Linked DNA regions of Homo sapiens. The protein of the gene in region 4 purifies or fractionates together with the protein of the main gene of each other region. This does not show direct contact. Each region holds a gene or a part of one and is shown on either strand. Other genes may lie near its edges.

The links.
Region 1: the proteins of TSPAN17 (region 4) and PNPLA6 purify together in Homo sapiens (affinity purification with mass spectrometry; 2 studies listed by BioGRID and IntAct, with this or other methods). This does not show direct contact.
Region 2: the proteins of TSPAN17 (region 4) and HS2ST1 purify together in Homo sapiens (affinity purification with mass spectrometry; 2 studies listed by BioGRID and IntAct, with this or other methods). This does not show direct contact.
Region 3: the proteins of TSPAN17 (region 4) and DHRS7 purify together in Homo sapiens (affinity purification with mass spectrometry; 2 studies listed by BioGRID and IntAct, with this or other methods). This does not show direct contact.
Region 5: the proteins of TSPAN17 (region 4) and SLC44A1 purify together in Homo sapiens (affinity purification with mass spectrometry; 3 studies listed by BioGRID and IntAct, with this or other methods). This does not show direct contact.
Region 6: the proteins of TSPAN17 (region 4) and GHDC purify together in Homo sapiens (affinity purification with mass spectrometry; 3 studies listed by BioGRID and IntAct, with this or other methods). This does not show direct contact.
Region 7: the proteins of TSPAN17 (region 4) and GPM6A purify together in Homo sapiens (affinity purification with mass spectrometry; 2 studies listed by BioGRID and IntAct, with this or other methods). This does not show direct contact.

The regions. Positions count from the first base shown.
Region 1 is NC_000019.10:7,552,717-7,556,216, forward strand, and holds part of PNPLA6 (patatin-like phospholipase domain-containing protein 6), read left to right. Parts: intron 1-1,155; coding exon of another isoform or gene 1,156-1,158; coding exon 1,159-1,299; intron 1,300-1,492; coding exon 1,493-1,556; intron 1,557-1,838; coding exon 1,839-2,007; intron 2,008-2,176; coding exon 2,177-2,359; intron 2,360-2,532; coding exon 2,533-2,651; intron 2,652-2,890; coding exon 2,891-3,047; intron 3,048-3,500. UniProt on the Homo sapiens protein: Phospholipase B that deacylates intracellular phosphatidylcholine (PtdCho), generating glycerophosphocholine (GroPtdCho). This deacylation occurs at both sn-2 and sn-1 positions of PtdCho.
Region 2 is NC_000001.11:86,917,635-86,921,134, forward strand, and holds part of HS2ST1 (heparan sulfate 2-O-sulfotransferase 1), read left to right. Parts: intron 1-3,500. UniProt on the Homo sapiens protein: Catalyzes the transfer of a sulfo group from 3'-phospho-5'-adenylyl sulfate (PAPS) to the 2-OH position of iduronic acid (IdoA) or glucuronic acid (GlcA) within the heparan sulfate (HS) chain and participates in HS biosynthesis.
Region 3 is NC_000014.9:60,155,399-60,158,898, forward strand, and holds part of DHRS7 (dehydrogenase/reductase SDR family member 7 isoform 1 precursor), read right to left. Parts: intron 755-3,500; coding exon 602-754; intron 1-601. UniProt on the Homo sapiens protein: NADPH-dependent oxidoreductase which catalyzes the reduction of a variety of compounds bearing carbonyl groups including steroids, retinoids and xenobiotics.
Region 4 is NC_000005.10:176,650,484-176,653,983, reverse strand, and holds part of TSPAN17 (tetraspanin-17), read right to left. Parts: intron 2,369-3,500; coding exon 2,318-2,368; intron 2,231-2,317; coding exon 2,084-2,230; intron 1,242-2,083; coding exon 1,071-1,241; intron 1-1,070. UniProt on the Homo sapiens protein: Part of TspanC8 subgroup, composed of 6 members that interact with the transmembrane metalloprotease ADAM10.
Region 5 is NC_000009.12:105,247,651-105,251,150, reverse strand, and holds part of SLC44A1 (choline transporter-like protein 1), read right to left. Parts: intron 1-3,500.
Region 6 is NC_000017.11:42,188,587-42,191,494, forward strand, and holds the end of GHDC (GH3 domain-containing protein isoform 1 precursor), read right to left. Parts: intron 2,625-2,908; coding exon 2,432-2,624; intron 2,318-2,431; coding exon 2,246-2,317; intron 2,172-2,245; coding exon 2,038-2,171; intron 1,774-2,037; coding exon of another isoform or gene 1,685-1,773; coding exon 1,599-1,684; intron 1,336-1,598; coding exon 1,117-1,335; 3' UTR 501-1,116; downstream 1-500.
Region 7 is NC_000004.12:175,669,265-175,672,764, reverse strand, and holds part of GPM6A (neuronal membrane glycoprotein M6-a), read left to right. Parts: intron 1-3,500. UniProt on the Homo sapiens protein: Involved in neuronal differentiation, including differentiation and migration of neuronal stem cells. Plays a role in neuronal plasticity and is involved in neurite and filopodia outgrowth, filopodia motility and probably synapse formation.

The DNA.
Region 1 (3,500 bases), on a different chromosome or scaffold from region 4:
TGCACTCCAGCCTGGGCAACCAGAGCAAAACTCCATCTCAAAAAAAAAAAAAGAAAGAAAAAAAAAAAGAAAAGAAAAGGAAAGAAATTACAGATAGAGAATACAATATCTAGAAGACAAAAGAGGGTCATCTTGCCGTGTGGCTGAAAGAGGGAGGGAGGAAGGGAGGGAGAAAGAGGCTTTTCTAAGGACAGTGAGCTGAGACTTGACAACTAAGATGGGGCCAGACATGAAAGAGAAACCAGGGGTGCTGCACAGGAGGCTGGTGGTTTTGAAGCACTGAGGAGGAAAGCGATCAAGGGGAGAGGTGATGGGGGTTGGGGGGTAAGTCACATAGGGGCTAGGGGCTGTGGACAGGCACTTGAGCTTATTTAGATTGTTATTGTTAGATTGGGGAGGAAGGATTCCACCAGTAAGGAGGCAACAAGAGGTCTAGGCAAGATATGGGAGTTGACAGCTGGTCTAGGCTGTTAGTGGAGAAACTGGGAAGCAACAGCTGGGTCAAAAGTAGCTTTTCTTTTCTTGTCTTTGTCTTTTCTTTTATTTTCTTTTTAAGACAGGGTCTCGCTCTGTAGCCCAGGCTGGAGTGCAGTGGCACGATCTCGGCTCACTGCAACCTCTGCCTCCCAGGTTCAAGTGATTCTCCTGCCTCAGCCTCCCAAGTAGCTGGGATTACAGGTGTATGCCACCATGCCTGGCTAATTGTTGTGTATTTTTAGTAGAGCAGTGTTTCTCCATGTTGGCTAGGCTAAAAATAGCTTTATTTCTGCCTCGTTTTATGTTCAGGTCCCCCATTAGACAGAGGAACCAAGGCCAGAATGAGGCAGGGGCACTGGCCAATTGATCTCCCAAGCACAGTGAATCTGAATGGTTGTAGAGTTGTGTAATGGATCCCACTGAGGTGATCAGGGCCCAAAGTGGAGGGTAGATGGCCAGGTTTTAACAAAAGAGGGAATAGTAGTTGAGGCTGAGGGTCCAGGACCAGAGCCATGGCTTTCTGTATGGTAGAGTCAAGACTTTGGGCAACTGGGGGCTGCAGTCTGGGAGCACAGGAGCAAGAATTTCAGATAAGGAGGAAGAGGAAGAAGAGGAGGAGGAGGGTTCATCTCTCTGGACACAGGTTCGCACCACAAATCTCATCCATTGGGTTCTTAGCAGGCTCTGGGTTGGGTGTGCCCCCACACTCGGAACTCACCAACCCAGCCAGCAACCTGGCAACTGTGGCAATCCTGCCTGTGTGTGCTGAGGTCCCCATGGTGGCCTTCACGCTGGAGCTGCAGCACGCCCTGCAGGCCATCGGTCAGTGGGGTGAGGGTCATGGGTGGGGGCTGGCGGTGGGTGGGACATTAGTGAGTGAGAGATGTTAGGGTAGGTCATTTGGGGGGTGGAGGGGAACAGGGCCACAGGGGCGGGGTAATGGGTATTCTTTTCTGAGTTAGGCCCCAGCCCTGTGGACCATGGTTCCCAGCCTCCCTTCCCCACCTACCCCTAGGTCCGACGCTACTCCTTAACAGTGACATCATCCGGGCACGCCTGGGGGCCTCCGCACTGGATAGGTGTGTGTTGCAGAAGGGAGTGGGGAGGGTGGTGGGTGGGCCTGGAGCCTCAAATTCTTTCAGACCTGAGTTCAAGTTCTTGGCTTCCAACCACGGAGCCTGCGTCTTACCCATAGGTCAATGGGGAGATTCGCAGTGGTGTGAATCTGCCCACCGGAGCACGGACTTCCGTGGTGGGGGTTTGGGTGTCTAAGTTCCTCCCAGCAACGGAGCTATGTGGTCTCGGGGAGCACACTGACCCCAGGCCAACCCCAGGATGACGCTGCCCCCTTCCCACCCTAGCATCCAAGAGTTCCGGCTGTCAGGGTGGCTGGCCCAGCAGGAGGATGCACACCGTATCGTACTCTACCAGACGGACGCCTCGCTGACGCCCTGGACCGTGCGCTGCCTGCGACAGGCCGACTGCATCCTCATTGTGGGCCTGGGGGACCAGGAGCCTACCCTCGGCCAGGTCGGAAGCCCGTGCCCCCTGATCTCACCCACCTCGGGTCCCGTCCTTTGCCCTCCCGTGCCTGCACCAGGCCACGTGCACCCTCGCCATGGGGGTAGGCGATCAGGGACCCAGGTGTGGCCAGGTGGTGGTGGGGCGGCTGGTGACCTCAGCCGTCCGTATTCCGCAGCTGGAGCAGATGCTGGAGAACACGGCTGTGCGCGCCCTTAAGCAGCTAGTCCTGCTCCACCGAGAGGAGGGCGCGGGCCCCACGCGCACCGTGGAGTGGCTAAATATGCGCAGCTGGTGCTCGGGGCACCTGCACCTGCGCTGTCCGCGCCGCCTCTTTTCGCGCCGCAGCCCTGCCAAGCTGGTGAGGAGCGGGCCGGCCCCCACCTTCTAGGGGCGTGGCTGGTGGGCGAGGCTTGGGAGACTGGGGCGGGGCCTGGGAGGGCTGAGGACAGGCTCGAAGGTCAGGGTACCCCTGGGGGATCCGCCGGACCCCGCCCTCATGCTCCTGGGTCGCGACTATCTCCCCCATCCCAGCATGAGCTCTACGAGAAGGTTTTCTCCAGGCGCGCGGACCGGCACAGCGACTTCTCCCGCTTGGCGAGGGTGCTCACGGGGAACACCATTGCCCTTGTGCTAGGCGGGGGCGGGGCCAGGTGAGGGCGGGGCTTGCTCTCTGGGGGCGGGGCCTGGATGTCCGAGGGTGGAGCTTCCTGGGAGAAACCGTGGGGGCGGGGCCTGGGTGTTCGAGGGTGGAGCTTCCCCTCCGGGAGAGACCCCGTGGGTAGGGGCGGGTCCTTTGTTCCTTAGCAGTGCGGGAGGTGGGAGGAGGTAGGGGCAGGGGAGTTCCTGCAGGTGGGGCCTAGCGGGTCACTGGGGCCCATTTTCCCGGCAGGGGCTGCTCGCACATCGGAGTACTAAAGGCATTAGAGGAGGCGGGGGTCCCCGTGGACCTGGTGGGCGGCACGTCCATTGGCTCTTTCATCGGAGCGTTGTACGCGGAGGAGCGCAGCGCCAGCCGCACGAAGCAGCGGGCCCGGGAGTGGGCCAAGGTGTGTGTTGCGAGGAGGGATTGCTGCACCCCAGGAGTGCCATAAAACCCGTGGTTCCAACCTAACCTGATCCCATGGGGGAGCCTCCGGGGTCAGGGTGACCCTTCCTGATTAAATCTATGATCCCCAGCTGTCCGGACTTTTATAGATAAGCTTCTAGGACTCTGGGTAACCACTTTGGGACCTCCTGTCTACTGACCCTAACCCATAACCCCCAACGAGAGCACCCAGGGCCCTTGGTGACCACCTTGTGGATGGCCTTGGATGACCACATCATCCCTAAGTGTTCCTTTTTTTTTTTTTTTTTTTTTTTTTTTGAGACTGAGTCTTGCTCTGTCGCCCAGGCTGGAGTGCAGTGGCACAATCTCGGCTCACTGCAACCTCCACCTCCCAGGTTCAAGTGATTTATCCGCCTCAGCCTCATGAGTAGCTGGGATTACAGGCACGCCCCAC
Region 2 (3,500 bases), on a different chromosome or scaffold from region 4:
TGCAACCCAGGTATGTATGATTCCAAATCAAGTGCTCCTTTAATTATGTCCGGCTGCTTAAGACTTTATATTGACATTACGCTGAGATTTAGGTATTTGAATAGAGTTTTAAAATTGTAATATCAGTGTTTAATTGCATTTATTGCTAAGAATGAATATCATTCAGAGAAAATTGAATTTCTGATACAAAGGAATTGGTTTAATGTAACGTCTGCCCCTTGTTTAGATTCATGTAATGAACATAATTATGTTACCCAATGAAACAACTGAATTAGATAGCTTATTTTTACTATAGGAAAGAAAAATCTAGCTGTTTTCCATACGTGCAAAATCACAATGTTAAAAAAGCATTTTTATTTTGGCATAAAAAACCTATTAAACATTTTGTCCTTAAAAGTAGTTATTATCATTTTCATTGTAGAAGATTCCAAAGGATAGTATTGTCTGATAGTGGCTTTAATATACCTTGATTTGAGAGTACAGTATTTTGATGGTGAGACTTCTAATAGAGCAATAGATGTATTCAAAACTGAGGTGTACTCATTGACTACTTGGGAAATTCACTAATTAGGAATTCCTAAAAAAAAAAATTCAGTAATACAGCTTTTTATTTTTATTTTTTAAAAAACAAATATGGCATTGTAGTCCACATATTACAATGCGGCTTGCTTTTTTTGCCTTGAATGTTATACACATCTTTCCAGGTCAGTACATATAGATGTGACTTACTCATTCTATTAATAATAGCTGTATAATATTCCAAAGTATGCATGTATCATAAATTATTAAGCCATTATTCTAGTAACGGACATTCAGTTTGTCCCCCATCTGTCGTGTGTGTGCGTGTGTATATATACATATATATATAATTTTTTTGAGTGTTTCTTTTCTTTCTTGGTATTATAAACAATTATAGGAAACATCCTTATGTGTCCGTTTAACTCATGTTGATGTCATTTTGTGCTAGGATGAATTCTGTATGTGAGATTGCTGGGACAAAGAATATACATATTTTATAATTTAACAGATTTAAAAATCTACTTTTCAACATTTTTTTGTTTTTCAAAAGATGTAGTAATCTACACTGCCAGCACACATTCATTAGCACTAGAAGATAATCAGCTTTTAATTTTTGCCAGTGTGAAGCTGTGAAATGATATATTCAATTAATTTACCTTCTAATTTCTAGGTAGGTTGAACATCTTTACATGTTTATTGCCCTTTTATTTGTTACTTTTTTCTATTTTTCTATTGGGTGGTTTACTTTTTTTTTTAAATATTAGAATTAGTAATCCTTTATCTATCCTATGTCTTTTTTAAATTTTTTTTATTTTTATTTATTTATTTATTTATTTATTTTTTTGAGATGAGCCTTGCTGTCACCCAGGCTGGAGTGCAGTGGCACGATTTCGGCTCACTCCTGCCTCAGCCTCCCAAGTAGCGGGGATTGCAGGTACGTGCCACCACGCCCAGGTAATTTTTGTATTTTTAGTAGAGACAGGGTTTCACCATGTTGGCCAGGCTGGTCTTGAACTCCTGACCTCAAGTGATCTGCCCCCCTCTGCCTTCCAAAATGCTGGGATTACAGGCATGAGCCACTGCACCCGGCCTCTTATTTGTTTTTGTCCAAGTTTGCCATTTGTTTCTTGACTTTATGGTGTGTTTTGCTCATATAGAAGTTTTAAAATACACACAGTTAAATCTATCAATTTAGGGAAGTCGTTTTCATATTTTGCTTAGGAAGACTTACCCAGAGCCAGGATTGTGTACATTTTCTGTATTTTATTATAGTATTTTATAGTTTATTACATTTGGCTCTTTAAACCATTTGTATGTTTACAGAGATTTATCATGATTTTCTCAGTAAATCATTTTTTCCAACTGTATGTTAACATTCCTTCTTTTAATCACATACTAAGTTTTCATATGTTCTTGGATCAATTTTGGATGCTATTTTCCATTAATCAGAGATTCTTTAAACCTCGGGGACCCATAAATAGGCTTCAAGGTATCAGTGAATTCCCTGAAATTATATACATAACTTTCATCAGATTTGCAAAGGAGTATGTGATTCCTTTAATGGCAAGGATCACAGATTTATAGTAGATGTTTCATATTTAGTGGACTTTTTTTTGTTTTTAGTAACATAACGTGCAGATTGTGAGTTAAATTTAGGAGATAAGCTTATTACCTGTGAAAAAGAGAAGTTTTTCAACTTCAAATGAAGTTAATACTTCATTGTATTAAAATGTAGACTTAATTTTCTAGTGAGAAATGGAAAAGGACAGGGAATCCAAATGAAAACTATTTAACTGTGACTCGTTACTATAAAATGTCAGAATTTGTGGCTGGTAAAAAGTAGTTCTTCCCGAATTTCAAGAGCGCACTTGTTGCTAATATTGACTGGTCGAACAGTGCAGTGAAATATTTTCTCACATAAGTGATAGAACTATGTGCTTGGTAACTTTATTTTCTATAGGGTTTTAGCATTGTAAATAATATTTGTTGACTGTATTCTTACATCTCTATATGGATTTATGAGCACATTAGGAATAATCTTTTACATGGGGAAAATAATTGAGAATGGATTATGTAATCATCCATTGGTGAGAATTAATGTTAGTCATTATGTTCTTAAAACTCTACTAGACTAAACAACTAATTCCAGGGCCAAGGTTGAGACTGCTTTTTGGAATTTGGTAGTTTTTACAAGTAAGTTCCTGAAACCATGCAGCAATACCTGTAAGATGTTCCAGAGAATGCTAGATTTCCTCACTTCTGAAATCATTTGGAAAACCTCATAGTAGCTACTGTTTTGAGGACTTTGGGTTAATAGGAATACAGTTATTCTAGAATTGGTAATTGGTGCCTCACTTAGTCTTGAATAGGATGTCTAGTGCCATGGAGTAGTCACCTGAAATAGTTGATCTCAATTAAGATAATTCCAGGATGTCTGTCCACCACTCTGGTAGGCCTTCTAATAGCTTTTTGGCACTTAGAGAAATTGAAATAATAATGAATGTTCAAAGATTGCTCTCCAGAAGACCATTTTTGAAGGATGTACTTATAGATGAACTTCATAATCATGGTTCACTATAGCCTAGTTATTTTTAAGATCTACCCACCTACCAGTACCTGTACTTACGTATTCTGCCTTTCTGCCTGTTAACAATAGATGGTAACTGTCAGTGCTCCTGTTCGGTCATTTGTGCACCTGATTCTGTTGCCTCACTTACCTAAAGACATGGTTCCCGAAGCTTTCCCTCATTCTCCTGTCACAATGTATTCTTGAAAATTGCTAAGAGAGTGGATTTTAAGTGTTTTCACCATACCAAAAAAAAAAGTATGTGAGGTAATGCATGTTGTCTTAATTAGCTTGATTTAGCCATCCATGATATATACATGTTTTAAAACATGTTGTACATGATAAATATATACAGTTTTGTCAATTACAAATAAAAAAAAACTATCTTGGTAAATGTTCCAGGTGAACGTGAAAA
Region 3 (3,500 bases), on a different chromosome or scaffold from region 4:
AGATCACACCATTGTACTCCAGCCTGGGCAACAAAGTGAGACTTCATCTCAAAAAGAAAAAAGTAAACATAACTACACCAAAATTCAAACAAAAATATTAACACTGTTGCCCTTTATGTGAATATGAAAGTATTACCTCAAGTTGTATTTTTTAAAGCTAATTCCATTCCTGTTCTTTTATCCTATATAATAAGTCTTATCCCATATGATTTTAATATCTGATACTTTAATAAAATGAGTAAGGATTCTTCCTAATTTCTATGATCAGATACATGTATGTCATGGATAAGAACCCAACTGTTTTTTCTCTAAGACAAAAATCTAAGATACTTGGTCACTAAAAATCCACCAGCATTTTATATAATTGTTGGTCACTCCCTAATGCCAAGAGTCAGTGCAAAAAAAGCATAGAAAGGTGGCAGAAAAGAAGAAAAAGGCGAGGGCAGCCAATTAAGGCAAAAAGGAGAGGAACTGAGATGAAGCATGTAGAACATTTGGAGCCGGGGGGAAATCTCACTCCTCTCTAAAAGTCCCAAAACTGTATTTGAGTTTGGACTGATTTATTTCTAGGAAGCACCGCTGCTATTTCAGATCCGCTTACCTAGGCATCTTCTTTTCACCCTTTCCAGCTCATGCACTCTTCTGGCTGACAGCACAAGAGAAACTCCTAGTTTAGACAACTGGTAAGCCAGCTCCTCACCAATTCCACTCGAGGCTCCAGTCACCCACACCACCATATCAGTCAGCTCCCATTCTATGGAAGGAATGTAAATGGAAGGAAGAAAATAAGCAATGAATTACGCTCATAAATCCAAGATTAGAAAAAAAAAAGAAAGCCTTAAACAATACCACTAAATATGAAGGCATGATGTATAGAGTTAAAATTTGAAATATTCTAAGAAAGCATCTCCTTCTTAACTAAAAAAAAAAAAAAGCATTAATACAAATCATACTAGTAACAGTTATCAACACAGTATTTGTATATTACAGAACCTTCATGACTTTTCCAGACTTTACTTCAAGGTAAGCCTTATAACCTCATGGTTTCACTCTAAGGCTCTATTTAACACAAACAGGTAAGATAAATATGATAGATAAGATAAACAGGCTAAGTAAATACAAAAATCACTGTCTGGACTCACTTTTCCTTAGCCATTAAATGAGGCATTCAGATTAGATGATGGCTGAAGGTCACATCCAGTTTTTAATTCTATTATTCTAATATTTTGCAATGGAGGTTGATGAAGAATCTAAATATACCAAGTTCTGTGCTGTTGATGGAAACATCCTAGATTTTTAAAGTAGTATTTTCCCCATTTGCCAATAATGCCTGATGCCTATCAGCTCAAGGTCATTTTGTAAAAATGTTCCCCAGATGCCTGAGCTTTCATCTTAGGAGAATATAGTAATTCACCCAAGAACAAATGCATATTACAGAGAGATGAAATATTGTACTCTGCTTCTCCAATTATGTTCCTCTTAAAAGACTACAAATGTTACAGTACTAAAGCAATGACAAATGGTTTATTCTTTTCTCCAATGAAAAACTTATTAGCACTTCAGGAGATGATATTCACTGTCTCTCTGAACCCGTAAAGTCACTGTTATGCAAAGTTCCTGGGTGACTTATTTACTAAAATATATGTTATTTATCAAAAATATCAAATATCGTATCACTTAACATCACATTTCCGATTTTAGATCAGAAAAGTTAAAATCAGGAAATGATTGTACTGTTTTAAACAGCTCTAAATCCTAACTGTGATGTTAACAGTACCATCCCTGGAGACTGCCAGGGTTCAAATGCCAGCTCCATCACACACAGCACTGAAATGCTCCCAGGTGAGAACTTGGTGCCTTAATTTTCCACAACTGGAAATGTGATGAATAAGAACACATCCTTCACAGGATTGTTGAGAAATGAGTTAAAACATGGAAAGCACTCAGGGCAGTATCTAGTACATACTCAGTGTTTAATAAACGTCAATTATAATTATTGCTCAAGTTTTTTAACAGATGGACTTTACTACAGCAAAACATAGAACAGTCACTTAATAACGTATGTCTCCTAACTTCTCCAGCCAGGAAAACAGAGTTACCAATTCTAATGGCTTAACGTTTTTACATTACTTCCTATGTACTTAGCACATTGTCTACTAAAAGCCTCACCAGAACTGTATGGAAAGGTATTATTATCTCAGTTTTACAGAAAAGGTAACTGAGGTTTACAGAGATTAATTTGTCCCACTAGACCATAGATTCCATTAAGGGTAGGACCCTGTCTACCTTGTTCATTGCTGTGGCCTCAGTGCTTAGCAAAGACTGGAATATTGAAAAGGCTCCATAAATAACTACTGAATAAACACCCAAGAACCCTGGCAGAGCCGGGATATAAGCCCAGGTATATCTAGCTCCAAAGCCCACACTGTCCACTATTTCATGATATACACATTTACATATGATCAATATTTTAAAACCCAACTGTTTCTTAGACATTCAAGAAAATACCACTTGTCCTTAAGAAAAAGGTTCCATGTAAATATCTCAACTAAGGCCAGGTACGGTGGCTCACATCTGTAATCCCAGCACTTTGGGAGGCCAAGGCGGGCAGATCACTTGAGGCCAGGAGTTCGAGACCAGCCTGGCCAACATGATGGAACCTGTTCTCTATGAAAAATACAAAAATTAGCCAGGTGTGGTGGCGCATCGTTGTAACCCCAACTACTCAGGAGGCTGAGGTGCAAGAATTGCTTGAACCTGGGAGGCAGAGGTTGCAGTGAGCCAAGATTGCTCCACTGCACTCCAGCATGGGTGACAGAGTGAGACTCTGTCGGAAAAAAAAAAAAAAAAAAAAAAATCTCAACTAAGGATGGAAACATCCCAAATACTATGTCTGGGCTACAATGCTTTCCTGTCATATAACGTACTTTTGTGAAAAGGCACAATTGGGCCACCTTCCTATAGGACTTTATCAAGAACAACATAACATCTATTCAGATAATCATTTATTCATTCATTGACTACTTGTTGTTCCCAAGTTCTGCAATCATCACACTCTAGAGTGAATATCATTTGTTTTAGAAACACAGGATTTACTAACTAGTGTCGAGCTAACAAAGACCTCTTGATATTTACACACATAAGCAAATATTTAAAGCTGATGGTGTAAACTTTTAATACAATCACAATTCTGGCCTCTTCCTCCCACCCTGAAGAAACTTTTTTATTTAGCACCGTTTGTTTCCCGATTCCACAGAATCTGGTATACATAATGGCCTCCCTTTAAGAGCCCCTGAAAGTAGATTCTTAAGAGTTGAAAGGAAAGTGATAGTTCAACCCCCACTCCAGTTTGAGAATTCTCTTCTCAAGCCCTTGACCCATCTCTAATTCCCTCACAGGATGAGGAAGCTAATTATCTCTGAAGGCTTCAGCTCCTTTTTTGGGAAAGTCTAATCATTCCAGGGATCTTTTTTATACTGATATGATAAGCTTTTAAATGC
Region 4 (3,500 bases):
TGTACAATTTTGCATACACACGTATGTACATGCACACATTTGTTTGTTCTGCTTGTTCACCATCTGTCTCTTCCCGACTGCCAGCCCTGAGAGGACAGGTCCCAGCTTTCTTCCCCGCCGAATCCTCAGGGCCTGGCTCTGGGTCCGGCATATGGTAGGCCCTTAACAATCCTGTGCTGAATGAATGAATGAACTGCATCATAACTGCCTGGCTATGTCTGCCTCTGCCCTGGGTTGAGAGCTGCTTGAAGCAGGCACCAGCTCTGCTTCACCTCTGGATCCAGAGCTGACTCTTGGTGGTGAATGGTGCCAAGGGCCTGTCGCCGTGTGTGGGTGTGATCGGGTGTGACTCATGTGTGACTGTGGGACCATGTGTAGGTGTAGGTGTGATCAAGTGTGCCTGCGAGTGTGTGACTAGGTGTGGTTGTGACTGTGGGTGACAGTGTGTGACTGTGTGTTTGTGGTTAGGGGTGAGTGGGCGAGATGGTGCAGGTGGGAGGCAGATAGGGTTTCAGGAACTCTTCTCTGGCTGCTCTTCACTGGGGTTAAGTTTGTAAGTTTGAGGGCAGACCTTCCATCAGGGGTCTAAACTCTAATATACACAGAGGCCAAACATAGTATAAATGAGAGATAAGGGCTGACAGATATAATAAAATACAGAGTGTTGGGAACAATGGCAAACAGAGAGCCTCTGTACCAGTGAAGGGGCAGCAGCAACATAGCTGCAGCCAATACCGTGGGCCCAAGGTTTAGCAGAAGTAGAAATCTATATTTTATGTCACATTTCCTCCATTCTCCCGTGTGTCGTAGGCCCTGGCCTGGGAGCTGCTAGCGTGGAGCCCATGCCCTCTGTTTCCCAAGGCCGTGGCCCTATGGCACTAGGCAAATGGGGACCCATAAGGATCAGCAGGGGCTGGCTCTCCTCGGACGAGGACACTCCTGGGTCTCTCTCCTGGGGCCCGCTAGCCCAGGTGGGTAAGGAGATGGTCCCATCACAGGGAACTTGCTCCCTCATTCGTCTGCCAGGAAGGCGCCTCCTACAGGTGTCCCAGGCTGGACACTGGACTCACGTATTCCTGAGCAAAGTCAATGAGGTTCTGGAGGTCAATGTCGTCCCGGTAGGCCTTGACGTTGTTGTTGATGAAGAGGTTGAGCTGGTCTCGAATCCAGTCCTTGAAGACAAAGGCCAGGATCCCTGTTGCCAGCTCCAGGAAGAAGATGAGACCGAGGAACACGGAGAACTGGGGTTGGGCATACAGACAGTAGGGGTTGGAAACGCAGGGCTCTGGTGACCTCCCAGGGCTTGGGTGTGCCACAGGGAAGGGCTCCATCCCTACCTCCACCAAGACCCAGAGGCGCCCAGAGCCCCCACCTTCTATTATTTTAGTATTGTTATATGATGGTAATAGGCATCTGTTGTTACCTACCCATCCAATTCCCTTTGTCTGGTAATCACACCCTGCTGTCTCTGAAAAACCATCCTCCATGCAAACCTTTAGTTTCCAAGGTTCGGATGGAGACACCTCCCCAAACCCACCAGTCCCAGATACAGGACTGGCAAGTGCCTAAAGCCCACCAATCAGAGCACTGCCTCCCTCGGCCTCCAGGGATTGGTCCAGAGGCAGCCAATCAGAGCCAAGGAAACGCAATTAAAGCACTTTGGGAAAACGGTTGGGAAGAGAGCTCTCAGCCTCCAGCAGGAGTTCCTGGGAGGGCATGGGGAAGCCGGCTCTGTTCCTGAGCCTCCTGCCACCTGGGAATGGAGCCAAACGGGGGGAGCCCGAGAAACAGGGAGAAACCAGGCCAAGTGAAACTGTGGCAGCCCCTGGATCAAAATGCACCGGCAGCCAGCACAACCCTGGACTTTTCTTATTTGAGTCAATAAATATTTTATGCTTGGGCCACCAGGTCTCGGTCACTTACCATACCACGGAAAGGATCCTAGTAAATATAGACAACATGAATCTAACGATGACGATTATAGCATAATAATAAAGCTACCCATCATTAAGCTCCAACTGTATTGCAAGAACTGGATGGGAGGAGATGGGGGTTCCCAGGGGATCTTGAGGGCAGCACTCACAAACTTGAGCAGGAAGGTGTTCTCCCGGAGGGCCCCAATGCAGCCAGCAAAGCCCAGCACCGACATGACGCCTCCAACTACCACAAACAGCCACACGGGGTCAAGGCCTCCCAGATCTGTCAGCGCTGAGATGTTCGAGAGAACGCCCTGTGCCGGGCAGCAGAGGCAGGTGTGGGGAGCTGACCTTCCCACCACCTCGTCCCATACCAGCTCCACGCCCGCCCGCTGCCTTACCTTCTCACCCCAGGCCCAGAGGCCGATAGCCAGGAACAGGGCTCCCAGCACCTGCAAGGGCAGCAACAAAGAGCTCAGGGCTGGGAGCAGCCCCAGGACCCTCCCCCCTCATCCTTCCCCGGTAGCCAGGGCCTTTCCAGCGGAGAGAGGAAGAGGCACAAGGGCTGTGAACGGGATCCGGGGTCCTTTCCATCTTCCCAAGAACACATCCCAGTGCTTCTTCCCCACAGGACACAGCCTGGAGGACTGAACCCTCTGCTAGCCTTGGGATGGACATCAGGGGCCCCTTCCTGGAACTCCAAATTGGAGCAGACGGTGGCCAAGACACTCCTGCCAAGGAGCAATAGCAGCTGTGTCAGCGGGGGTAGCGACGGCGCCAGTATACTGAGCCTCTACACCTGACCGAAGCTGGTGCTGGGGTTCCAGGCTCCTAGCCTCCTTTCTGCACCCTGCCAAGTCCAGCTCTCCTGCTACCCTAAAGCCGTGTGACTGCGGCCCCGCCCTCAACACTCCTCCCCAGCCCAGCCCCATCCTACCCCTTTAACCTCCGCCTGCCAGAGTCAGCTTCCACGGCTCACGACCAGACACCCCTGAATGACAGGAATCTCAATCATCCCTAGCAGGATCCACCTAGGATCTGGCCTGTGCCAGTGGCTTTGCCCCATGGCCACAGCTCTGCCTGGGCCTTCAGAACACCAGCTAGACTCCCCACCGGGGCAGTCCAAGTGCCTCTCCTCCATCCTCAGCTTTCCCACCTTCCTGCCTCAATTCCCTACTGGGAAGAGCCCTGGATGTCCAGGCTGGTCACTCTCACACCTGACCCTGGGCAGGTCCCTGGGCGTGCAGTCTCAGAGGGGGAAAGGCTGTCGTACCCAAGCCCAGGGCCATGACCCCACCTCCTGCGACCTCCCCACCCACCTGCTTTATCTGCAGGCTCCTTCCCCTCAGCACATAGCCACGGCCAAGGCCTTTATCACCTTCCCTTCCCTGACCGTGGGCTCCCCACACTGCTCTATTCTTTCTCTGGAAACATCTTCCCTTCCCTCCTGCCTGCTGGGTCTGCTGATGTGAAACCAAACATCACTTCTCCTGCCTCCTCCCACTTGGCCTGCCCTTGGCCTTCAGACAGGGGACTGAGTGCCACTTTCTCCTTCCTGAACCCCACCTCAGTTAACTCAACCCC
Region 5 (3,500 bases), on a different chromosome or scaffold from region 4:
ACAATATTCTAGTGTAAATGCTAATTAATCAGTTGGATATAAGGATCAGCGACCAGGACAGTAATTTAGTTTGGGAACTGTTAACATACAGACTGTAACTGAAGCCATACGAGGGATGAAATTACCTAGAGAAAGGGTAAGGAAGAGTGGCTCTCAAACTTGGTGACACACGAGGGCTACCAGGGGAACTTTTAAAAGTTTTGATGCTGGCTACTCTGGGTGTACTATTATGGGTTAGCCCTGCTCTGCAAGAAGCACTTATAAAACAGAAAAAAAAACTTTTTTTGATGCCCAGCCCGCAGTCTTGGACCAATACATAAGAATCTTTGGGAATAGGACCCAGGCATCACTTCCATAACATTTGTAAACTTCTCCAAGTGATTCCAATGTGCAGCCAAGGATGAAAGGAAAAGAAAGCCTGAGACATTAAGAATTAATAGTACTGTACTACAGAAAGGACAAGAGATTAAGAGATTAAGCAGGTTTCTAATCCCAGCTACCTCATAATGTATCTCTCTGACCTCAGTCTACTTCATATCTCTACATTCTAGTTTAGATCAACAGAAAAGTGATAGTAGGTTTATCTCATATATCCCCTATAGTCCCAAAAATCTGAGGCAAAATTACAAAATTGAAATATTTCATTCTTTCTTTGCAGTTTGAGCAGGGGAAAGGGGAGCATAGAAAAACAACTATCAACCAATTACTGGTAGTAGAATATATTTTTATGAATAATTTTCCCAGGCCAATAACATTTTTAAATGACTGTACTGTTAACACATCAAATAGTATTTGATAGTATAGTATTTGTTAAGCCTGGAAGCATTCTAAGTGGACTAGTTTTGCTGTACCATGCTACTCTCCAGATGGCAACTGTAGAAAGTTCAAAATGGTGGTGTGAAATTTAACTTGGAAATTCCTTAATTCAAAATTTTATCTTTAGAAAAGTAAACATTTTCTAAAGATAAAAAAGTAGGCCGGGTGCAGTGGCTCACACCTATAATCCTAGCACTTTGGGAGGCCAAGGCAGGAGCATAGTTTGAACCCGGGAGTTTGAGACCAGCCTAGGCAACATAGTGGGATCCTGTCTCTACAAAAAATTTAAAACATTAAAAAAATAGCCAGGCGTGAGCTCGTGCCTATAGTCTCAGCTACTCAGGAGGCTGAGGTGGGAGGATCACTTGAGCCCAGAAGATCAAAGCTGCAGTGAGCTATGATCATGCCATTGCACTCTAGCCTGGGTGACAAAGCAAGACCCTACTTCACAAAAAAAAAAAAAAAAAAATTAGTAAACTGCAATTTAAGATTTGGGAATTGGCCGGGCATGGAGGCTCATGCCTGTAATCCCAGCACTTTGGGAGGCTGAGGCGGGTGGATCATCTGAGGTCAGGAGTTCGAGACCACCCTGGCCAACATGGTGAAAACTCGTCTCTACTAAAAATACAAAAAAAAAAAAAAATTAGCTGGGTGTGGTGGCGAGCACCTGTAATCCCAGCTACTTGAGAAGCTGAGGCAGTAGAATCACTTGAACCCGGGAGGCAGAGGTTGCAGTGAACCGAGATTATGCCACCACACTCCAGCCTGGGCGATGAGAGCCAAACTCTGGCTCAAAAAAAAAAAAAAAATTACCATTTCTACATTATTTTCCAATTTCGAAATTAACTTTGATTTACATATTTTGAGGAGTAGATCCTCTATGCTAACAACACAGTATTCAGAAGATGAAGGAAAAAAAAGGCTTCATGCCATGACTTCTGTTCCCGTTAGATGAAGTTTACTTTGCAGGTCTTAATTTAACTGAGCAACTTTAGTCTCTGTGGGTAATTCCCACTACACTCTTCAAATTTAATTTTTACCATCTCACTTCAAACTCCACAAAGCTGATACAGATGATGGTATTATTAAAATTGTTAAAGCACAGTTAGCATATGCAAATATTAACCAGCATTTGTAAACCACTTCTGATTGTTTTTTATTACTCCCAAAACAGAATATGAGTGCTACAAAAAGACAGTTAAATATACAGCCTTCAATTTGAAGACAATGGGATGAGACAGTGGACAAATGTCTCCTAACGCTAGACAGACAAGCGGCAGTTTGTTCAACTTGAAAGATTCTCCTCCATCCCTCTTACAACATTTAAGGTTAGAACTGAAGGACACAGAACTTCACAGAACTTGCAAAATCTCCTGGCCTCTAAAGCACTGCTGTGAGAAATAATCATCTAGCCATTAAGGACAAAGACTTACGGCAATTTGCTAAGTAATCTTTCAAAAGATTCATTCAAACTGGTTTGTCAATGGGAAAGAGCATTTAATAAATCTGAAGATTTACAAGTGAAATTTGAAGTTTAACATTACAAGGATAGAAATTATGTCAGGTTATACCAGAACAAATGAATTATAGGGAGATGGGAATAAATTTTAAGAGCCTTAGGGAGGATTAGTACTGTAAAAAGAAACTCAAGACTATCTTACTTTTACGTTCCCCTCAAAAGACTTTTAGGCAAAGACTGTCCTGTGTTGGTTTGTATTGAGCAATTACCAATATTAGTAAACAACTTGTAATGGTCACTAATTTTTAAAAAATAATTTAAAAAGTTCCTTAAGAGCCCTGACTCACTAGACACTTTTAAGATCCTAGATGTACATAGCTGATACAGCACAAATTATTTTGCCAATAATCTGCTCCTCTAGCAATGAAATGCTAGTATAGAATGTGACACTTTTCTTTGATCTAAATCCTAAAACAGTATAATTATTTTGATGGAAAATCATGATACCCAGACACTGCCAAGAAAATGAAAATAATACCAGGACAGATTACAAGAGATCAAAGTTTGGAAGACCACAAACTCTTTTATGAGAATCTACAACATAGCAAGAGACTGTAAGGGAAAATAAATTATATTTCAAAAGTGAAGCCCTGCTACAAAAAGAAAATGCACTTTATTTACATTGATAAAACCTGCCAGAGCTTTAAAGTTGCTGAAGATACTGCTGAGAAAAGCTAAACTGAACTGCAGATTACCTCAAAGCACACTGTTTTCATGTGTTGTGTAGGTTATCATTAGAGTTTGCAGACAAGCTCTTTTAAGATGTTGTAGCCACTGCTCCAACTAAAACATACACATTAAGCAGGTCATCAGGAGCAAAGGAAAACCTTGAACAATTTTGCAAGCTGATGGTACCACTGAAAGAACAGGAAGGGATATAGAAAAGGCAGGTAAATTTTAACTTAAACAGTCCAGGTTTGAGTTTAGAAGAGGACAGCTTGGCAAAATTAATCAACCAGCCCATAGAATTTACAAACAGTAGATGGGTCAGGTCTAGATTCACATTCGATGCCACTTGCCAGCCAGAGGTTCAAATATATGTCTACATATTCCCTCCAGTGACTACTGCTGAGCAACTATTAAGTACAAGGTACAGTGAGGCACTGCAGTAGATACACAAATAAGGAAAACAAAAACAGTTCCTGTGCTCAAGAAGCTTACAATC
Region 6 (2,908 bases), on a different chromosome or scaffold from region 4:
CCAGGACCTGGGTGTGGGACATGGAATGGAGAAGCTATTCAGAGGCATCTGGATCCAGTGCTGCCTCTACTGAGGAGGAGCTGAGGTCTGCCCCTCCCATCAGCCTCCAAGATGGAAAACCTTAAAACTCCAGTCCAGGCAGTGGGAGGGAAGGAAGCCAAAATCTAGCCCAGTTTCTTTCTTTCTTTTATTTTAGCCTCTACAACCTTGTGGAGGCTGCGTTTCCTCATTAGTATGGAACAGTGAACCCAGATGGTCTCCGGAGTTGCTTCCTGCGGCGATGCCTTATGATGTGAAGTAATAGCTCTCCCTTCCCCACCGCAGAAGTGGTTTGTGGGTGCTGGCCTAGGATGTGCCACGAGTCCTCCAAGGCTCCTGTGTGCGCATGCAGCCTTGCCAGGCCCAGAGCAGAATGTTGGGGGAAAGTCCTGGAGCTCAGTGGGGGAATGGCTGGGCCGGGGTCCACTCCCGTTTCCCCAAAGCAGACCCTGAGGCAAGAATCTGGGTGCAAGAGGTTTATTTGGGAGCCATCCCAGGAAGCCCAAGGCGGGGGAGTGGGGAAGAGAGGGAAGGGAGAGCCCCCGCAGGAAGTACATGAATGAGTGGGTTACTGCTGCGGGCAACTGGGACTCCATCCTGCTGGGCATCCTCTGAGAGTTTATGTAGAATACACTTCAGAATTGTCCTGCTCAAGGACAATGAAGCTGAGGTCCTGCTCCTTATTGACTCAGGGTTGCTGCTCCTGGGGACATTAACCCCCCAACACTTCTAGCTTGCCCAGTGCACTGACTGAGCACACAGCTGTGGCCACCAGAGAACCTCTTTGGGCTGTGATACAGGAAACCATCGGTGTGCATGGTAACTCTCTAGCAGTGTCCTTCATGCCGGGACATGGGGACACGGGCAGGCACTGCTGGCATCTGCTAACCCCGGAGGCCCATACTTCAGAACCGGTCAGCTGGGCCAAGGCCTCTCTAAGGCCCAGCGGCTCTCATGGGCAAATGTCAGGTGACACAGAGTCAGAGACCCTGGCCAAGGACTCCCCATCCGGAGAGGTCCCAGAGGGAGGGGCGAGGTGGCCTCTGGGGGGAGCTGGGCGGTGGGGCAGGACTTGACTCAGGACACCACCCTCTCCTGCAGACACTGGGCCAGGTGCCTGTGCCGAAGGACCCGGGGCATCGCAGGGGGGAAGGGGGAGGAGGGGCAGGCAGCGAGGGCTGCCCGGAGTGCTCGGAAGGCTCCCTGCCCCACCAGGTGGACTCTGGCAGGGCCCACGCTGCCCCAGAACCGCAGGGACTTGTAGCGGGGAGAGGCTTCCTGAAGGCAGTGGTCCAGCTGGGAACAGAACAGCCTGAGTGAGCTGGTGTGTGACTGTGAGTGTGCACACGAGGCGTGTGTGGCTGTGCCCAGGCTACATGTGTTTAGAAGTTTTGTGTGGACAGGTGTGTGTCTGTGGGACTTAGCCCTCCCCTCCCAGAGCCCCAGGGAGCTTCTCCTCCGCCACCCCTCTCCTTCCCATCAGCCCTGATCTCCATGGCACCCTGGGAGTGTGCAGAGTGAAGGGGTCTACAGTCAGACCCTGTCCTCGTCTCCTTTACCTTGTCTCGATTTTCCTCTGACAGATTCCTCAGCCCCCTCAGCGCCACAAACACCTCGTAGTGGGGAGCAGAGCCCGCAGAGGAATCTGTGAATAGACCCCATGTGCACACATACTTCCGGTGAATGGGCAGCTGCCAAGTCTAGTGTCCTCTGCCCTATCTGTTCTTCCCCACTCTGAGATTCATAGGGAAAAAAGAGTTTCTTGGTGGGGAGTGGGGTAAATGGAGAGGAACCTAGAGCTTGATCCTAAATAGGAGACAGATCAGGAAAGAAAATGGGTAGAGACTGCAGCAGGATGGATGAGAGTTAGATGCAGAGAAGGACTTTTGTAGGAGTAGTAAAGGAGGCTTATCTCTTTCCTAGCAGTCCCCTGGCAGGGGAGGTAGGAGTTGAAGGGTAGCTCAAGGATGGTAGGCAGGAGCCGGTGGGGAGGCTCACCCAGAATGCTGCTCTCCACACAGCCATGGTCCAGCAGCTTGGCCCCCGCCCACTGCCCCACTGCCCGGCCCAGGGCCTCAGAGAACAGGTCTTCACCAATATCTTCCCCTCGCACACTCAGGGTCTGGTCCAGCCTGAAGAGGAGGAAGGGAGAGGCAGTGGAGCCCAGGACACAAGGATGGCCCTTCAGCTCCCCGGGGTCACCTACCTGCAGATGAACCTGACGACTGGACACTGATTGTAGGCACCAACCACTCGCACCACATCACCCAGGCGGCACCTGATGGGGTGCAAGTGGGAGTGAGGTCGGGCCCAAGGTCTTCTGAGCTCATGCCCCAGGCCCCCAGCACGGTCCCATAGGGCCCCAGGTAGCAGGGGCTGTGCAGCTGATCACCTGGTGAGGCTGGCGCGGTCCGTCAGCACCAGCTCATACTCCTTGCCCTGCTGGGCCTCGGCCAAAAGGAGGGTGGAGGCAGCTTCCTCCTGGGTGCCTTCCTTGACTGGGAGCAGCTCGATAAAGGGGGCCCCAGGGGGCAGAAGGTAGAGCCCATGGGGCTGCTCTGGCTGTAGGTTTAGGCCCAGCACCCCTGTGAAAGCAAAGCAGCCTCCTCAGCGTCTGCTGGTGCCATCGCTTTCTGCCAGGCAATAGCCCCTCCTGGATCCCAGGCCTGATCCTCTGAGCACCTGATCCTCCTGCTGCCCTTCCACCACATCCTTCCTGGCTCCCCCAGCCTCAGCGGGCTGCCTCTTAGGCCCTCACTGGAAAGAGGCAGAGTGCTGTGGTCCTGGAGGGGGCAGACTTGGGAGTGAATCCTGGTGCCACATGAATTTGTGCAAGACTCTTTTTTTTTTTGAGACAGAGTCTCGCTCT
Region 7 (3,500 bases), on a different chromosome or scaffold from region 4:
CTTATAAGAATCATCTGTTTTTAGTTTGGGACAAAACTTATTGTAACACCCAAAGAGATAAAATATATGAGTAGGAGTAAAACTGGAATCCCAATAATGTGACTAAGGGGCTTTAAATTGTGCCTTATTATTGAAATTATTTAAATCAGTAATAGCGAATTATAGATCCAGGGAAACTTAGTTACAGAGAGATATTGGATTGATGAAAAAATAAAATATGACTAATTTGTGGTCCAATTTTCAGTGATGCCCAAGCAATTTCTCCAGTAAAAAGGCAAATTCCGATTTTAAGATTCATTTCCCTTCTGTCAATAGAGTATAGTGAATTGAGTTATATAGTAATTGGCTTTTTATTACAATTGGAACAGTAACATTGTAATGCCACTGGTGTGCCTTGGCAAGTTACTTACCTTTTATGGATCACAGTTTCCTCATTTACAAAATGAGGATCATTTCTAAAGCTTATTCCAGCTCAACGAGTCTGTGATTCTAAAACCCTAACGAAAAAATAAAGAGATAAGGGGGTCTGAAAGCACGTCTTTACCGTAAGGTAATAACCTTCTGCCAGGACGAGTGCAGTCAATTGTGTTATTTCATTCAGAATTTGAAAATAACTTCATAATAAAAAGACAAAGCAATCAAGGAAGAATTGCATATCTATATATAGAGAGAGATGCACTTGGTTATCTGCCTGCCATTCAAGCATCTTAAAGGTATTTCAAATAGGAATTTTCGAAGCAAAACATGAGCCACGTTTTCTTTCTTTCTTTTTTTTTTTTTCTATAATGGTAACAATTGTGTCACCAGTCCCACCCAACAGACCAGAAGGGTGGCAGCAGCTGCTGCGTGGGCTCCTCCAGAGGCAATGCAGCAGGGTGTCAGCCCAGCAAGATGCCCCGCCCACTCCTGTAACACCTCCCTGACACCCCGGAATGAGCAGAGCAGAGACAGGAGTAGGAGCTGCATTCTTCTGCGTTCTGCAGAGACAGCAGAGCAGCGGGTGAGGCTCTGAGCCATACCCTGGCTGTCCCAACACTGCCTTCACGAAGGGGGCTAGCTCCACGACTGAGAAGTAAACAGTGGCGGCTGCAGCCAGCGCTGCAGAACCCTGCCTCCCTTCCCCTCTGCCAACCATTCCTCCACACCCCCACCTCAGCTTGCATATCACGCAGGACTTGTAGCTCCATGAAATCGAGGGGAAAAGAAAGATTTATCGTCCACCCTCTCCTGCTACTTATTTCCACTCTACTGATGCTGCTTTTTTTTTTTTTTTTTTTTTTTTTTTTTCGTTTGTAGGCAGATTGTATCTTACGGTCTACTTTATTATGTTCAAAGTGAACCTGTTAACCTCTTTTGCCTGTGTTCCGTAGCTGTGAATGAGTCTGTGCTTTTGAAGGTACTATATCGGTGCAGCTCTAGTTGGAACACTGAATAATACTAAAGGGTGGATTTTTTTTTTTTGCAACAAGTATATAAAAATCTTCCTTAGTTAATACTAACAGAAATTTGTTATTCTATCCCTGTTTCTCTCTGCTGCATAAAAAGTAAATGGTTACTAATTGAAATTATATCAGCACAAATGCAATTAATTTTGAAGCAGCAGGCCGGGCGTGGTGGCTCACACCTGTAATCCTAGCACTTTGGGAGGCCGAGGCAGGCGGATCACGAGGTTAGGAGTTCGTAGACCAGCATGGTCAACATAGTGAAACCCTGTCTCTACTAAAAATAAAAAAATTAGCCGGGCATGGTGGCAGGCGCCTGTAATTCCAGCTACTTGGGAGGCTGAGGCAGGAGAATCGCTTGAACCCAGGAGGCAGAGGTTGCAGTGAGCCCAGATCGTGCCACTGCACTCCAGCCTGGGCGACAGAGCAAGACTTTGTCTCAAAAAAAAAAAAAAAAAAAATGAAGCAACATTGTATCACTGAATGGAGAGTGATAATCAATATTCCCTTTACTTAATGAATGCCTTTGAAAGCATAACTTGGTCTGCATTCTGTGTTTCCTTTCATGCGGTATCAGCACCAATTCAAGTTCATTACAATATTTTAATGCTATCTGTCATTCAAAATCCAGAATTTGAGGCACGTAAAACCACAATATTAAATTTTGAGGGTGAAAATCATTATTAACGACTTTATTAAAACATTATATGAAAAGTTATTAAAGTATTTTAAGTAACAAAATTTATTTACCTTAAATATTAAATGGCACCAAATTGAGTACAAATACATGTTATTGACTACATTGAACATGACCTTTTTAAGTTTAATGTAGAAGTATTTATTTTCTTTAACCATATTTTCTTATTAAAGTTTAAGCCAAAACATATTTATTCCGCTGCAAATTAGGAGACCTTCAGTGTGTCACATTTTCAAATCTTGAGATATTTTTTGCCCCCATCCCCAATTTTCTTATTTCTACAAATTTCCGATTGCTACTGTGACATCATTATGGATCTCAGAATTTATCTATACTTCTTCTGAAATTTAGATTTTTAAATGCAACACTTTCGAAGTAATAGATTTCCCAAATGTACTAAACTCTATGGAATTTTCAATAAATGTATTTTCCATAAATCTACCTGCTCTAAGAGTTAAATAAAACAATAATAACTTTTGGAAGTGTGTTTACTAGTTTGCTAGGGCTACCACAACAAAGTGCTATAAAGTGGATGGCCTAAACAACAGAAATTCATTGTCTCACAGTTCAGGAAGCTAGAAGTTTGAGACCAAAGTGTCACCGGGTTGATTTTTTTTTTTTCCTGAGGGCTGTAAAGAACACCCGGTTCCATGTTTCTCCCCTACCTTCTGGTTGGCTGCTGGTAATTTTTGGCATCCAGTGGTTTATAGAAGTTTCACCCATCACTGCCTTCACATTCATATGATGTTCTTCCTGCCTGAAAAGCTGTGTCCAAATTTCCCCTTTTTTTATAAGGACAGCAGTCATATGGGAATAGAGCCCACCCTAGTGACCTAATTTTTTACTTTTTCAACTCAGTAAAGAGCAATAAGGTCAATCTCTGAGACACTGGTGGTAGAATTTCATCATATGAATTTTGTGAGGACACAATTCAACTCATAACAGTCTTATGATAACAGTAATGTTCTTCCATATATAAGTTTTAAAGAAACAAAATTAACTAGTTGCTATTGTTACCCTGTTTCAGAGATAAAGAAACATAAAAGGTTGAATATCCTAATCTGAAAATCCCAAATCTGAAATGCTCCAAAATGTGAAACTTTTTGAGCGTCAACGTGATGCTCAAAGGAAATGTTCATTGGAGCATTGCAGATTTGGGGTATTTGGATTTGGGATGTTCAACTGGTAAGTTAATGCAAATATTACAAAACCTAAAAAAAATTTGAAATTCAAAACACTTCTGGCCCTAAGCATTTCAGACAAAGGATTTTCAACCCTTATTCTATTTGTTTAGTTTAAAACATCTGTCTTATTAGCCTCAGGTGTTTGTAGATTTGGCCACAGCATATTAGATTAGTATT